Linked DNA regions of Homo sapiens. The protein of the gene in region 1 interacts with the protein of each later gene in a biochemical or structural test. Each region holds a gene or a part of one and is shown in the gene's direction. Other genes may lie near its edges.

Region 1 (3,503 bases):
GGGAGATGACCGTCTGTGGGAGGGTTTAGGGATGAGAAGGTCATCCCTGTTCGCATTCAACCTACCTGTTCTCTCCTTAGCTGCCCCTGGCCAGAAGGTGATGGAGAATAGCAGTGGGACACCCGACATCTTAACGTAAGTGCCCCAAGCCTGGGGGTGGACGGGGGTGAGGGGACAATGAACAGGCAGGAAGTCGGGGAGATAAAACCTAAGCACGGGAGGAGTAGGGATGAAGACAAGTGGGGCGGAGGACAGGATGGGATGAGGAAGCAGAGAGAAAGCAAACCTCTTAATAACCAAAACCGGTTCTGAGTTGCCTTCCTCCACTTTCTAAGCAGGCGGCACTTCACAATTGATGACTTTGAGATTGGGCGTCCTCTGGGCAAAGGCAAGTTTGGAAACGTGTACTTGGCTCGGGAGAAGAAAAGCCATTTCATCGTGGCGCTCAAGGTCCTCTTCAAGTCCCAGATAGAGAAGGAGGGCGTGGAGCATCAGCTGCGCAGAGAGATCGAAATCCAGGCCCACCTGCAGTATGGGTTGATGCCCCCTGAGCCGAAGCCCCTCTGCTCCCTCACCCCCAGCTCCTCATTCAGCCCCACTTCATCCAGATTGCTTTCTCTGTAGCTATGGCTAGTGAGCCCCATTTAGCTCTTAGTCCTGGCAAGCCTTGAATCCAGAAATCTGCCTCCAGTTTCCCCTTACCACTCCCAGCCCTGGTGTCCCCGGCCTGGGCCACGTCTGACCCCAGTTTGCTCCTATCATCTTTTCCAGCTCTTTTATGCCTTTGGCCTGAGGCCTCCTCTGTCTCTTCCCCCAGCCATCCCAACATCCTGCGTCTCTACAACTATTTTTATGACCGGAGGAGGATCTACTTGATTCTAGAGTATGCCCCCCGCGGGGAGCTCTACAAGGAGCTGCAGAAGAGCTGCACATTTGACGAGCAGCGAACAGCCACGGTCCGGGCGGGTGGGCACCTGGGGCGCCAGTAGGGGGCTCGAGGCTGAGGGTGTGCTGCTTGTAGCTGGAGGTCCATCCTTGTCTGATTGCCTGTCGTTGCCCCTCCCAGATCATGGAGGAGTTGGCAGATGCTCTAATGTACTGCCATGGGAAGAAGGTGATTCACAGAGACATAAAGCCAGAAAATCTGCTCTTAGGGCTCAAGGGAGAGCTGAAGATTGCTGACTTCGGCTGGTCTGTGCATGCGCCCTCCCTGAGGTATGGTGGCCTGGGAGGCCAGACCTGGGTGTGAGGCTGGGCCATTAAAACCTCTCCAGGGGCCGTGCACCGTGGCTCACACCTGTAATCCCAGCACTTTGGGAGGCCGAGGAGGGCGGATCACCTGAGGTCAGGAGTTCGAGACTAGATTTGCCAACATGATGAAACCTTGTCTCTACTAAATATACAAAAATTAGCCGGCCATGGTGGCGGACGCCAGTAATCCCAGCTACTGGGGAGGCTGAGGCAGGAGAATTGTTTGAACCTGGGAGGCGGAGGTTGCAGTGAGCCGAGATTACGCCATTGCACTCCAGCCTGTGTGACAGATCGAGACTCTGTCTCAAAAAAAAAAAAAAAAAATGGTTAGAGTGTGGTGCTAATAACCCCAAGGTCGCAGGTTTGATCCCTGTAGGGGCCAATGGTAAAACTTTGGCCAGGCGCGGTGGCTCACGCCTACCAGTCCCAGCACTTTGGGAGGCCAAGGCGGGTGGATCACTTGAGGCCAGGAGTTCAAGACCAGCGGACCAGCCTGGCCAACATGATGAAACCCCATCTTTACTAAAAACACAAAATTTATTAAGCAGACATGGTGGTGCACACTTGTAATCCCAGCTGTTCGGGAGGCTGAGACATGAGAATCACTTGAACCCGGGAGGCAGAGGTTGCAGTGAGCCAAGATCGCCCCACTGCACTCCAGCCTGGACTCTCTCAAAAAAAGCCCGGAGCAGTGGCCTTTTTTCCTCCCACATCACTTTTTAATGGTTTCATAGTATCACATAGTAGCTGATTTATTTAACCAGAACATGCCTGATGGGCATTAGAGATGTCCCCAGTGAACTCCAAATGAACACTGCCCTCATATCAGGGTATCTTATTAAGATATATCCTTCAGTGTGGAGTTGCTGGGCTGTGTGCAGGCTCACCTCTGGGGCTTTGGGATATATCATCACCCCAACCCCACCCCCACTCCAGTGGCCTTGCCTGGCTGGACCTCTCCCCTGGTACATCCCGTGGTCTTTTGGCTCCCAGCCGTCAGGCAGCAGGGAAAGGAGAGTTCCTATGTCACTAGGACCCCTGCCCACGCCCCTTATCCCTCCCAGGAGGAAGACAATGTGTGGCACCCTGGACTACCTGCCCCCAGAGATGATTGAGGGGCGCATGCACAATGAGAAGGTGGATCTGTGGTGCATTGGAGTGCTTTGCTATGAGCTGCTGGTGGGGAACCCACCCTTTGAGAGTGCATCACACAACGAGACCTATCGCCGCATCGTCAAGGTGGGAGGGCGGCCTGGGCTTCGTGCCAGCTGCTGAAGCCAGGAGCTGGGGGGCTGGGGGTGGGCAGAGTGTATTTGCATGGCCCTAAGTAACTCCAAACAGAATGGGTAGTCAAGGAAGATGTAGCCAGGGTGAAACTAATGCAGCCCTTCCATCTCTTCACACCTGCAGGTGGACCTAAAGTTCCCCGCTTCCGTGCCCATGGGAGCCCAGGACCTCATCTCCAAACTGCTCAGGCATAACCCCTCGGAACGGCTGCCCCTGGCCCAGGTCTCAGCCCACCCTTGGGTCCGGGCCAACTCTCGGAGGGTGCTGCCTCCCTCTGCCCTTCAATCTGTCGCCTGATGGTCCCTGTCATTCACTCGGGTGCGTGTGTTTGTATGTCTGTGTATGTATAGGGGAAAGAAGGGATCCCTAACTGTTCCCTTATCTGTTTTCTACCTCCTCCTTTGTTTAATAAAGGCTGAAGCTTTTTGTACTCATGAGTGTAGATGTTTCTAGGTGGAGGCTTTGCTGTGGAGGAAGCTGTTCCCTAGAAGGAGAGCTGGCTCACCCTGAGGAGCCGGGATGAGCATTACTTTGCTATCCCTGGTAACACCCTACCCTCTCAGCTCTGACACCCACCTGGTCAGCTCCCAGCCACCCCAACCCCTACCCCCACTTCCACCTCTACCCTCACTGTCTATTCTTTCCGTTGCTCAGACTCCCACAGCCCAGGGGCACTGGGGGCCCTGGCTCCCCATTGCTACATTGGAACACCAGCCATCTCTGGCCACCTTCTTTCACCTCTCTCTTGGTTGTCCAACTTCTAGTTTTTCCTTTTCTGTTTCATTCTCTGCCCCTTTGCCAACGTAGGAGCAACTAAACAGTTCTGTACCCTAGAAGCTGTCTTTGATTATTTCACTGCTCTGGTCAGGATCTAGTACAGGAGCCAATAGAAGCAGCAGTGATTCTGTCTTGTTCCTGACATGAGGTTACACTGTTATGCATGATGCTTGCTGTAGGTTTTTGAT
Region 2 (6,034 bases), on another chromosome or scaffold:
ACTTCCCTTCATAGCTGTCCTTTTAAAATAGCCAGACTTGTTAGGTCCACATACATTGCATCTGATTCCTCCCTTCCTAGTGACCCTACAACCCACTCCAATCTGACTCCCCACAACCACTACCCCCACTTCTAATCTGCTTGAACTACTCCTGTCAGGGTCACTAGCACCTTTTGTAGTGCCAAATCCAGTAGGTGGGTCTGTGTTCTTACTGTGTCTCAGAAGCATTTGACGCAGTGGGCCTCTTTCTCCTTGAAGCGTTCTGTTCCCTTGGCTTCCATGCCACTGTGCACTCTGGCAGTTCTGCTTGGTGTTCTCTACTGCCTGTGCTGCCTCCCTCGGCTCCTTGATGTTGGACTTCCTTGACATCCTTTTCCTTTCTACCCCCTCCCTAGGTGGTCTCATCTCCTCCGTGGCTCTAAATCCCACTCATACATTGACAGCTCTCAAATATCTGTATACCTGGATCTCTCCTCTGACCCCAGATACCTATATCTAACTGCCTTTCTACCTGAAGGCTCTTGGTTATGTTAAACTTAACACACCCAAAACTGAACTTCTGGTTACTCCCCTCCAGCCCCTTCATCCTCAGCTTCCCCATTTCAGTAAATGGCACAACTACCCACCCAGTTGTTCAAACCACAAGCCTGGGAGACCCCCGTCTCCAATACAAATGCAGGTCCAGATAATTCTACTTCCAAACTGCATCCTTAATCACTCCATTTTCACCATCTCTGCTCCCACTAGCCTAGTCCAAGCTACCAGCAGCTCTCGAGCAACTGTGAGAGCCTCCTAATCAGCTGCCACTCCACTTCCACTCTGTCCCTTTCTACTTCTTTCCTTACACAGCAGCTGGAATGACCTTCCACATCTCTATCCTGCATAAAACTCTTCCCTGGCTTCTTATTACAGTAGGATTAAATTCCATCTCCTCATGTTGGCATTTCAAGACCCAGCTACTAAATTTTTGATCCCAGTTCTTTTCCATGATCTCTCTAATTGGTTACTTTTCATAACCACTTGTTCTTGGGTCATGGATTTCATATCTCTGTTACCTCTCTGAGTTCATTAACCATTTTTCTCTCAAAGTTTCTATTTCTTTTCTCTATTAACTCAATTTCCTCTGGTATTGGCTATTTTGTTTGTTGAGTTTGGTTCCTTTCTTTCATGGTATTGGCCTTCTTAAATTGTTGGGTGATCTTTAGTTGTGTTCATCTTCAAATTTTCTGTGAATGCTATGTCTTGTTTATTTTTTTATTTTATTTTATTTATTTATATATTTTTGTTTGAGACACAGTCTCATTCTTGTTGCCCAGGCTAGAGTACAGTGGTGCGAGCTTGGCTCACTGCAACCTCCATCTCCTGGGTTCAAGCAATTCTCCTGCCTCAGCCTCCCAAGTAGCTGGGATTACAGGTGCCTGCCACCATGCCCGGCTAATTTTTGTATTTTTAGTAGAGATGGGTTTCTCCATGTTCATCAGGCTGGTCTCGAACTCCTGACCTCAGGTGATTGACCCACCTTGGCCTCCCAAAGTGCTGGGATTACAGGCGTGAGCCACCGCACCCAGCCCTATGTCTGTTTATTAAAGACTGCCTCCAGTGACTGGATTGCCAACTGGTGGTGGGGAGGGAGGGAGGTGTCAGTAGTTTTTCTCCTGGGCATGGGTCTTCCCAGTTTTAAATGTTATCAGTCTTCTGGACACTGCCCTGTTTCATTGGCCTGTGTTCTCTAGCCTCACCCAGGGATGGTCTCCTCTGCTGGCTGCCTGGCACAGGCCATCTCTGGATTGTCTCACCTACCCTACTTGCTCTTGCAGCTCTTCTAACACTTCGTGATTAGTTTATTGTATTAAATGCCTTCTATCGAACTTGGTGTAGAGTCTCTTTGCTTGGCTGGATCCTGAATAACATTTCTGAAACAATTTTATCCGTCAACATGTTATTTTTGTATTTTGTTTGTTCAACTTATCAGATGTTCACTCATCTTGATCCTTGGTTGTAATTATGGAGCAACTGTGCTGTTTTTTCTTTAACTTTATTTTCACTAACTTATTTTCTAATATTTCTTTTGTTCTATCTTGTTTTGGTTTACTTTAATAACTCTGTAATACTTAATTTGACTGCTTGGCTCAGATACCTTTTAGTGTTCTTGTTTTCTAATAGGAACACTTTAAGGCTATGCATTTTCCTCTAGTACTATTTTGGCTGTATCTCATAAGTTTTGGGATATGGGCTTTTTATTGTTATTCATTTCCAAATAGTCTAATTTCAATTAAGTTTCCTCTTCAACACAGGTTAGTTAGAAGAAACTGGTTTTTGATTCATGAGTTTTTAATTTCCAATTAGAGAATTTGGCTTTTTTGATTCCTACTTTTGGGAATGTTTTTAAAATTATTTTCTTTTTTGTTCTTGTTGGAACCAGGATTTGAGCCAAAGGCTCTGTCTCCACAGCCCAGGTGCCTGACACTGACACTGAGTTAGGCCACACCTTACACAGGTCTCAGCTTGGCCACTAATGAGGGCTGGCCAACCATCTTCACCTCGCTGGGCCTCAGGATGATCAAGACAAGGGAATTGTACTAGTCTCTCAGATTCTTTCCAGCTGTAAAAAACAAACCAACAAAAAATCTAAAACCAAAATAACTGAGCTTCCAATCTAGGTGGGAAAGATCTAAGACTTGTACAAAGTCCTGCAAAGCCCAGAGGAGGGCGGTCACCCATCTGTTTGGAAGGATCAGGATTCGGGAAAGACTTCATGGAAGAGTTAGCATTTAAAATCAACTGCAGAGGATCATTCACTCATTCATTTAACAAATGTTTATTTAGCACCTATCTGCTATTTTCTAATTGCTGAAGATAGCAGCAAAATTACTATATATCAGGTTGGTGCAAAAGTATTGTGGTTTTTGCCATAACTGCAATGACTTTTGCAGCAACCTAATAAAACAGACAAAAATCCCTGCTCTGTGGAGGGTAGGCACATAGATATAGTCTAGCAATTTGACAGCTTACCTGACTCAGCCAAGCTGCGAGGCACCACCTATTTTCCACTGAACTTACCTTTCTTTTGCTCAGGCGCTTCCTCCCATCAACACAGTCGGCGGAGACAAGGTTGGCTAAAGGAGATCCGAAAGCTTCAGAAGAGCACACACCTCTTGATAAGGAAGCTGCCCTTCAGCCGCCTGGTAAGCTCCGGGAGCTTCCCACCAACCCCTATGCCACCCTCCTTTTTTTAAATTTTCCCAGGTATTAGGGACCCTACTGTCTCTTAACTAACTGGCCAAGGGACCTCTTTTGTAACCTGGTAGGGGATTCTTTTCTGAAAACATGAGCCCTCCAAGAGCACCTTGTAATTCTTTATGGAATTGATTTCTAACCTCTACTACCTTTTTAAAACTGTAGTTTTTGACTGTATAAATAGGAACTCTCTCGTTTGTCCACCTTAGATCCCTTTTCCTATCCTGGGAGATTGCCTCTCATCACCCAATTACTGGTGATTTCCCCATCACCAGTAAGAGATCCGCCAGTTCCTAAGCTCCCAGGAGTCAACACCTGCTCCTAATTGGGTCCTAAGATTAAGAGCCAGGAAAAAATAATGGAAAGGAAGATTCACTGGAACTCATGGAGAGCATCATTGTCCCTTGAATCTCTCTTCTGTTACTCCCTACTCCTACTCCTCCCCTTCCCCACTCCTTCACAGGCAAGAGAAATATGTGTTAAATTCACTCGTGGTGTGGACTTCAATTGGCAAGCCCAGGCCCTATTGGCCCTACAAGAGGTAAGAAGGCACCAAGGCACAATTGGGTGAGGGCTGAGTGGGAGAAAGAGGCAGCCTAGAATTCTCCAGTGCTGACTGGAGTGTCACATGCTGAATCTGACCTCTGGAAAAGAACAATGAGGTAACCTCTGAGGGTTTGGAGGCTGGATTCTGCGTGGTGATAGCAGAATTCCCTGGCAAAGTTCAGTCTCATTCTGTGAATAGTTTCCTACAATCCTTTGAGCCCTCAGAGATTAAGTTTAGCAGGTTTCCAAAAAAAAGCAGCCCGTGGCCCTTCATCTGTGTCCGTCTTTTTCTCTTTCTGTCTCCAGGCAGCAGAAGCATTTCTAGTTCATCTCTTTGAGGACGCCTATCTCCTCACCTTACATGCAGGCCGAGTTACTCTCTTCCCAAAGGATGTGCAACTGGCCCGGAGGATCCGGGGCCTTGAGGAGGGACTCGGCTGAGCTCCTGCACCCAGTGTTTCTGTCAGTCTTTCCTGCTCAGCCAGGGGGTAAGCTCATCCTCTTTCACAGGACTGGGGCTGGAATTTCTCAAGTAATTTCCTTTCTCCATCCATAGTCCCTTGTCACCTCGCCTTCCCTTTGTTCTCTAGTAAAGGTTGATCTAGTTTTGACTGCCTGGGACAATGTGGTTTGTGCCCTTTTGTGCAATGTTAGATAAAAGATATCTTTCTATTAAATAATAACCAGATGACCCTAATTTCTTTTGGTTGTTATTGTTGTTGTTTTATTTTTATAAGACAGGGTCTCTGTCATCAGTGTTGCCATCGTGGCTCACTGCAACTCCTGCCTTGGCCTCCCAAAGTGTTGAGATTACAAGAATCAGATGACCTCATTTTGATTAAGAGAAAACTTTCTAATAAACTTTCTAATAAAAGAGAACACTTTCTAATAAAAACTTTCTCTTTTTTGATTAAGAGAAAGTTTTCTTACTTTTGAAAATGGCTTGTTAGTAAGTGTGCTTCCTTAATTTCAGGGATGATACCGGGGACTCTCCAGAGCCATGACTAGATCCAATGGATTCTGCGATGCTGTCTGGACTTTGCTGTCTCTGAACAGTATGTGTGTGTTGCTTTAAATATTTTTCTTTTTTTTGAGAAGGAGAAGACTGCATGACTTTCCTCTGTAACAGAGGTAATATATGAGACAATCAACACCGTTCCAAAGGCCTGAAAATAATTTTCAGATAAAGAGACTCCAAGGTTGACTTTAGTTTGTGAGTTACTCATGTGACTATTTGAGGATTTTGAAAACATCAGATTTGCTGTGGTATGGGAGAAAAGGCTATGTACTTATTATTTTAGCTCTTTCTGTAATATTTACATTTTTTACCATATGTACATTTGTACTTTTATTTTACACATAAGGGAAAAAATAAGACCACTTTGAGCAGTTGCCTGGAAGGCTGGGCATTTCCATCATATAGACCTCTGCCCTTCAGAGTAGCCTCACCATTAGTGGCAGCATCATGTAACTGAGTGGACTGTGCTTGTCAACGGATGTGTAGCTTTTCAGAAACTTAATTGGGGATGAATAGAAAACCTGTAAGCTTTGATGTTCTGGTTACTTCTAGTAAATTCCTGTCAAAATCAATTCAGAAATTCTAACTTGGAGAATTTAACATTTTACTCTTGTAAATCATAGAAGATGTATCATAACAGTTCAGAATTTTAAAGTACATTTTCGATGCTTTTATGGGTATTTTTGTAGTTTCTTTGTAGAGAGATAATAAAAATCAAAATATTTAATGAAAATGGACTTACTGTTACAGCATAGAGATTATACTGTACTTTTTGTGTGTTAAAAATAAGTTCTTTATTTGTTTGCAAACAGCCACAATTTTTTTTTCTTTTTTTTTTTTTTGAGATGGAGTCTTTTTTTTTATTGATCATTCTTGGGTGTTTCTCGCAGAGGGGGATTTGGCAGGGTCATAGGACAATAGTGGAGGGAAGGTCAGCAGATAAACAAGTGAACAAAGGTCTCTGGTTTTCCGAGGCAGAGGACCCTGCGGCCTTCCGCAGTGTTTGTGTCCCTGGGTACTTGAGATTAGGGAGTGGTGATGACTCTTAATGAGCATGCTGCCTTCAAGCATCTGTTTAACAAAGCACATCTTGCACCGCCCTTAATCCATTTAACCCTGAGTGGACACAGCACATGTTTCAGAGAGCACAGGGTTGGGGGTAAGGTCACAGATCAACAGGATCCCAAGGCAGAAGAATTTTTCTTAGTACAGAACAAAATGAAAAGTTTCCCA
Region 3 (7,000 bases), on another chromosome or scaffold:
GGGCACAGTGGCTAACACCTGTAATCCTAGCACTTTTGGAGGCCAAGGCAGGTGAATCACCTGAGGTTAGGAGTTTGAGACCAGCCTGGCCAACATGGTGAAACCCCGTCTCTACTACAAATACAAAAATTAACTGGGCATGGTGACACACACCTGTAATCCCAGCTACTCAGGAGGCTGAGGCAGGAGAATTGCTTGAACCTGGGAGGCGGAGATTGCAGTGAGCCAAGATTGCGCCATTGCACTTCTGCCTGGGCAACAAGAGTGAAACTCTGTCTCAAAAAAAAAAAAAGTAATATCTTTTTTTTTTTTTTTTTTTTTTTTTCACATTTCTCACCTGCACACACAAAAAGTAATATATTAATCAGGTATGTAAATGTTCTGCTTTGGGTCTGACTTAAACTAAGCTGAAGCAGTAATTTAATAAAAGGAGTATCCTAAAGAACAAACAAACCAGCAAAATTAGGTCAGATGAAAATCTTTTTATTCTCAAAATTGTTTTTCAGTTCGGTAAATATTTTGAGTGTGTATGCATACGGTATTTAGTTTGCAAACATATATGTTTTTTTCTTTAAGCTAAAAAAAAAAACCCACAAAAAAGTAGTATGTTCCAGACTAACCCAGCATATTATTTCTTAAAACTATTTGAATTGTAATATTTTTTTAATTGTTGATATCCGCATTGTTTAAGATAACTAGGTCATAATAACCTATTTTGCTGAAATTTGTGGTTTGTAAAAACTAAAGTTTCCTTATTACTTGGTTTTTCTGGAACAAATTGGTATCCTGATTTGTAAGTTTGATATTTGGTCAAATGATTAAAATTGTTTAAAAAGGACTATGTATTGTTTCTATGCTTTTAGGTTAAATTCATAGGGGAAAAGTGCCCTTACTACCTAAGAATCTGCTAGCTGTGTGTGAATTTGGCCTAGTTTCAGTTTTAACTGGGTTAGTTTGACCAGCAGCAGATGTACACCTTGAGACCTTCTTCCTTGATGTTGGTGGAGAGTGATCCTTAGAGATAGACGGAGGTTAACTAGAAAATTGTAAGGCACTTTTGCAAATACATTGCAGAACAGCTTTGCCAATAGCAGGAGATAAGAATGAATGCCAACAGGGTTATCTTCTTCCTTTGAGATGCTGCCTTGGAAGTGATGTTCTCTTTGCAGACATTTGAAGAGACTTCACATTCTGCTATCAGGGATGTTCCAAAAGCTAGTTTGATCTTCTCTTCCTGTTTTTTTTTTTTTCAACTGGAATGTTTACATACCCTTCAGGGCAGTGTTAAACAGCAAAAGCAAATTGGCTTTTTACTTTCAAATCAATATTTGTATAATTATATAGCCAAATGGAATTGTAGGTCTAGACATCTGTAATATTAATCTACATCTACTGGAGCATATTACAGCAGTTACATTTGAATTTGCTGTTTAACATCTCTCTGGTGCAGCAATGCGTGACTGTAAAGGAAACTGTTTTTGTTTTATAGCTGTAACTGTCCTGGTGCATGACAGCTGCCCCAAAGGTATCCCCCTTTGATTGCCTTCTGTTCAGGAGCTTTCAGTGTTAGTGTTACATCTGGAGCCAGGTGACTAATGAGTTACATATTCCATAGCAGATGCCACTGGCTAAGCCAAAAGTAAGTGGCCTATTGAATAGGAATTGCTACCCACAAAGTTCTCATCAGAGTGACAAACATATCCAGGATCTGCTCCTAGTTATTTTCAGCTGGATTTGCCCATAGTTCAGCTGGTTCCTTAATTATGAATTTCAAATAAAGCTAACCGTAGGACTCATTTATTAGAGCAGTTATACTCTGTTTGGTGCTTGAATTATTAAAGATTCCCCCTTTCCTCAGAATTTATCCAGTTGGCGAAGGACTTTGAGGATTTCCGTAAAAAGTGGCAGAGGACTGACCATGAGCTGGGGAAATACAAGGATCTTTTGATGAAAGCAGAGACTGAGCGAAGTGCTCTGGATGTTAAGCTGAAGCATGCACGTAATCAGGTGGATGTAGAGATCAAACGGAGACAGAGAGCTGAGGCTGACTGCGAAAAGCTGGTGTGTATTGTTTTCCGTGCTAGAACAGTGATGATGCAGGAGGGGGAAGGCATTGTCTGACAGTTTCCACTTGCCAAATATACCTAGTTTCTTCTTCCACATTAAAGAACTGAAAGTGACCTGTTCTTTAACAGCTTGCCCATGATTAGAGCTGAAATTGCAGACTAGGAATCTTGTTCTTCATAATTTGAAATTTAAATGTTTTTGTCACTTAGACTTGAAACTTACTTAACAGACAGATTTCAAATGAGAACTTAAAGAATTAGAGGAAAAGGGAGGGAGGGAGATCCTAACGTACTTGATCTGTCACAAGTTATTGGCCATCCTTCATTGTTTATTTTAAGTGCTACCCGGAATATCCATCCTTACATGAGTAGCTGGTACTTTGTCATACATACAGGCAAGACAACTGTGACTCTTCTTTTCATCACCCCTCTCTAATTCAGGGTAAAAGGCTAGATGTATTCAACCAGTTGAGCAATGTGACTGACACAGAACACTATCATTTTGATGTGCCAGGATGGGTCATAATGCAAAGGAAAGCCTTTACTGGGAGGGACTAATCCATCTTGGTATACAGTGTTAGATGCCTCAGTAAACTCAAATTGTCTGGTTCCAGTGCATTATAGCTTTGTATCCATTTTAATGCATTTTGCTCCACTACTTTGAGAGGTGGGTGGCTGCTTTGATCCGTAGAAGCCAATATTTGTCCTGATAAAATGACACTAAAGTGTTTTTGCTATGTGAAATCTATTTTGGGACTCTCATTTTGCATTATTCTCCTCTTGGATTAGCAGGTTAATCCAAAAGTCTTGTAGCAGAAACTTCGCTGTTCTAGATGTAGTTCATTTTACCAGTCAGAAATCAGAGACACAATCTGGGTTTGATGTGAATTAATATGCTATTGGTGTAGCAGCCTTCCTGAAGGTCCATTTGCATAATGCTGCATTTTAATGTCTTCTGGTCTGCCTGTCCCATAAACTTGAGGTGAAGCTTTCTCCCCTGGCTAGTTATGATGTTTTACTTTGCTTTGGTCTGTAGGAACGACAGATTCAGCTGATTCGAGAGATGCTCATGTGTGACACATCTGGCAGCATTCAACTAAGCGAGGAGCAAAAATCAGCTCTGGCTTTTCTCAACAGAGGCCAACCATCCAGCAGCAATGCTGGGAACAAAAGGTGGAGGAACTGCATCTGTTGTTATCCTATCACAAGCAACACAGGCTGTCAGATATTCTTGTTATCTGAATTCTTAAATATACTTCTTCTAGAATGTGTGCTGAAAAAAGCAGAAAAAGATTTTGTGGGGAGAGTAGGTGGGGAATAAAGGCACAGGGATGTCCCTGTATATTTTATTTTATTTTATTTTTAAATCTTTCCTAAGGATGTTGTTTCACCATGGATACAATTTTGATGTTGGTGCTAAATTGCACATCAATAACTAATCCTGTGCATTGCTAAGAAACCCAAAGGTGAAAGTGGCAGTTCAGCAATACTTTCAGTGTTTACTCTCCAGAGAGCTCTTACAGCTCTTCTGGTTTAGAAAGGCCTCTGTGAGCCAAGACCAGACAATAATTTTGGTTCCACTGCACCACTGTTTAAAATAGTCTCAACCAGGCTTTGAATTTAACATCCCCAGTACAATATGTAGGGAAAGGTCAGCTATTTATTTTGTTGCCTGGTTGTTTTATGGGGAATCTTTATAACTAAGAAGATGTACAGGCTTAATTTCTTAAAAAGTCAGTGTTGGGTAATACTCTTGTTTGTAGAAACCAGCACAGTTGGGATCAAATTAAACTTCATTCCCTTGATTTTGTGAATTTGGAGTAGCCTGTAATACAAACTCGGTAGAGAATAGCACCCATAACCCTGACTAACTTTCAACTGCCCTTATAAGGTCTTTGCTGAAAAAGCAACTGTGTTGCACCTGTACTCATGCACACACACTCCTCCGTGGAAACCATACAAAGTAGCCTACCACAGGGTTTGAGATTGTAATTGTCTCTATAGTGAAGATTTTGCTATGAAATTAACTGATGTTACCTGACCAGTAGGACTTGTTCTGAATGTTGGTGAATTTTACATTCCACAGTCTACCATGTCTAACGTTGTATTGTTTCACTGATCTAGACTATCAACCATTGATGAATCTGGTTCCATTTTATCAGATATCAGCTTTGACAAGACTGATGAATCACTGGTAATAAACATTTGATCTCTGAGAATTACCTACTTTTCTTACCTCTGCTTCCCCAGGAATATCTCTCCTGTCTTCTCTTCTGAACATCCTATATTACTATTTTATTAGTTGATGTGTTATAGATTCTGAGCTAGCAATTTAAAATATAAATCCACATGAGCTATAAGAGGCTGGCTTATATATTAGTTTCTGAAGTGAGAATATATAATTCAGAATTTGGCATAAGTTGAGTTCATTTAATAGATCTCTGTGTGCCACATGTACTAACTGATTATATTTTGACTTATTAAAGCCCCAGCTAATAATAAAAATATTAGCAAGACTGTATGTCGTCAGGGTTTATTTGCTGCTCTTAAATAGACTTGTGCCTTATTTCTGAATTAGTTTGGTTCTTGGGGAAAGCATAGTCATACTTCACAATTAGAAGGAAACCAAGGTCCTGGGATTTCAGCCAGAAAAGTGTGATTAGAGTTTCTAGGCACTATATAATGCTTTCATCAACAATGGTTAACATGTTAAACTATTTGTTGCCCTGCTTTTATGGGGCGGCACACTTCTTTTAACTTACAGTGATGCTTCTGCATAAAAGGTCATCTCCTGATACAGTCTTTGATATAGTTCATTGATTTGTGCATCTTTTCTGTTACTAGCTGAAAACTAGCAAACAAAACAAATCAGGAAGTTTTTGGTGACTGGTTTTCTGGTATAGCAAAACAGGTGACAACTATTTGTTACATGGCTAGGAGTTTTCTGTTCAGATTCAGTGTTTGACCAGGGAAAATACGGCCATTTTATAGATAAAAATATTAGGCATCACCTTTCTCAAATAGGGAATGATATAGTGGAGGTCTGGAATATATAATAAAACTAGATCATATTATCAGTTGATTTTTGAGCTAGACCTATGATACGATATTTCTTGTAACTGAAGCTGAATCAAACAACCAGTAACTAAATTACTGGACCATGACTTGGGGAAGTTAAATTTATTTAGCTAAGCTATTATTTGCTGTATACCACTGTTTCTAGATACTGTTTTCAGGGATGATCAGGAGTAAGGAAATCACAGGTAACTACTAAAATGAATGCAAATAGTTAAAATAGGTGAATTGAAATGAGACCACAATAAAAGACAAATAGTTCTTCAGTGGTGGACACGTTTTAGGGCCTAAGTTCCTAAACTGTAGAACTTTTTTTTTTTTTTTTTTTTTGAGACAGAGTCTCACTCTGTCACCCAGGCTAGAATGCAGTGGCGCAATCTCAGCTCACTGCAAGCTCCGCCTCCCGGGTTTATGCCATTCTCCTGCCTCAGCCTCCAGAGTAGCTGGGACTGCAGGCGCCCGCCACCACGCCTGGCTAATTTTTTTGTATTTTTTTAGTAGAGACGGGGTTTCACCGTGTTAGCCAGGATGGTCTCGATATCCTGACCTCATGATCCGCCCACCTTGGCCTCTCAAAGTGCTGGGATTACAGGCATGAGCCATCGCCTGGCAACTGTGGAACTTGTGAAGTGGCAATATTATGCAGAGCATTTGATTAGACAGTGGCAATCCCTTGGGGGCAAGAATCACATCTAATACAATCAGTATAGTGCCTAACATTCTGTAAGTTCTAAAACTAATTACAAAAATAATCAGAAATAAAGGATCAGCCACTGGAAATATGGCAGAATTTGATTCTTTAACCTCTTCTTGCCTCTGTGGTATTGATTCCTGATTTTATTATAATAGCTTCAATTTTTCAAAGAAAGCACATTAACTTACTATAGCTCTATAGCTACAACACTTGAGACCTTCCCTTCTCTAACCCTCCCCGAATTGTACGTTAGGTAGCCTGACTGAAGAAGCCTTTAAAGTTCTCTGTAAATTTATTTGCACAGGGTTTAGGGATGGCCTAACCAAAAAAAGAAATTAATACAGTGTAATTGTCAACAGGATTGGGACTCTTCTTTGGTGAAGACTTTCAAACTGAAGAAGAGAGAAAAGAGGGTATGTATGATTTGTTTAGTCTTTTTTTAAAACAAAGTAATAATGGAGTTATTTTTGGAAATTTTGCCATGATACTGCATTCCTGTCATGTTGCTCTAGCCATTGTTAAGCACATACTACAGATGAATTCATGCTGTGGGGACAGTATTGATATTCTTTTTTTTTTTTTTTTTTCTTTTTTTTGAGACGGAGTTTTGCTCATTTCCCAGGCTGGAGTGCAATGGCGCGATCTCGGCTGAACGCAACGTCCGCCTCCCGGGTTCAAGCAATTCTCCTGCGTCGGCCTCCCAAGCAGCTGGGATACAGGTGCCTGCCACCATGCCTGGCTAATTTTTGTATTTTTAGTAGAAACGGGGTTTCACCATGTTGGCCAGGCTGGTCTTGAACTCCTGACCTCAGGTGATCCACCTGCCTCGGCCTCCCAAAGTGCTGGGATTACAGGCGTGAGCCACTGCTCCCAACCAGTACTGGTACTCTTTGAAGTAGTAACTTAGGACAGAATCCTGTCCATTTCACTGTTTAGGCTGCATTTCAATTCATTCATACAGTGGAAAAGGATAAACTTAAGTTTGTTTTGAATTGTCATATGAATTTTTACACAGAACTTTTGTGCTCTAATATAAGCTTCATATAATGGGATATATAGAGATCTATCTGTGTATGCTTGTTTAGGGTACTTAATGTGTTTCCAAGACTTCATGTCCTTAGTTAGGATTACAGCTGTACTTTTTCTGGTGGTGTCATCTAAATTT

Evidence for each region. The genes of interacting proteins can lie anywhere in the genome.
Region 2: of the proteins of AURKB (region 1) and CENPA, one has a biochemical effect on the other in vitro, tested with the Homo sapiens proteins (3 studies listed by BioGRID).
Region 3: of the proteins of AURKB (region 1) and RACGAP1, one has a biochemical effect on the other in vitro, tested with the Homo sapiens proteins (2 studies listed by BioGRID and IntAct).

What each region holds. Positions count from the first base shown.
Region 1 is NC_000017.11:8,204,203-8,207,705, reverse strand, and holds the end of AURKB (aurora kinase B), read left to right. Parts: intron 1-80; coding exon 81-135; intron 136-335; coding exon of another isoform or gene 336-338; coding exon 339-530; intron 531-771; coding exon of another isoform or gene 772-817; coding exon 818-956; coding exon of another isoform or gene 957-966; intron 967-1,066; coding exon 1,067-1,215; intron 1,216-2,315; coding exon 2,316-2,490; intron 2,491-2,661; coding exon 2,662-2,835; 3' UTR 2,836-2,972; downstream 2,973-3,503. UniProt on the Homo sapiens protein: Serine/threonine-protein kinase component of the chromosomal passenger complex (CPC), a complex that acts as a key regulator of mitosis.
Region 2 is NC_000002.12:26,789,056-26,795,089, forward strand, and holds the end of CENPA (histone H3-like centromeric protein A), read left to right. Parts: intron 1-3,075; coding exon 3,076-3,185; intron 3,186-3,700; coding exon 3,701-3,778; intron 3,779-4,089; coding exon 4,090-4,224; 3' UTR 4,225-4,271; intron 4,272-4,756; 3' UTR 4,757-5,534; downstream 5,535-6,034. UniProt on the Homo sapiens protein: Histone H3-like nucleosomal protein that is specifically found in centromeric nucleosomes. Replaces conventional H3 in the nucleosome core of centromeric chromatin that serves as an assembly site for the inner kinetochore.
Region 3 is NC_000012.12:50,001,495-50,008,494, reverse strand, and holds part of RACGAP1 (rac GTPase-activating protein 1), read left to right. Parts: intron 1-1,858; coding exon 1,859-2,061; intron 2,062-3,102; coding exon 3,103-3,239; intron 3,240-4,190; coding exon 4,191-4,260; intron 4,261-6,194; coding exon 6,195-6,248; intron 6,249-7,000.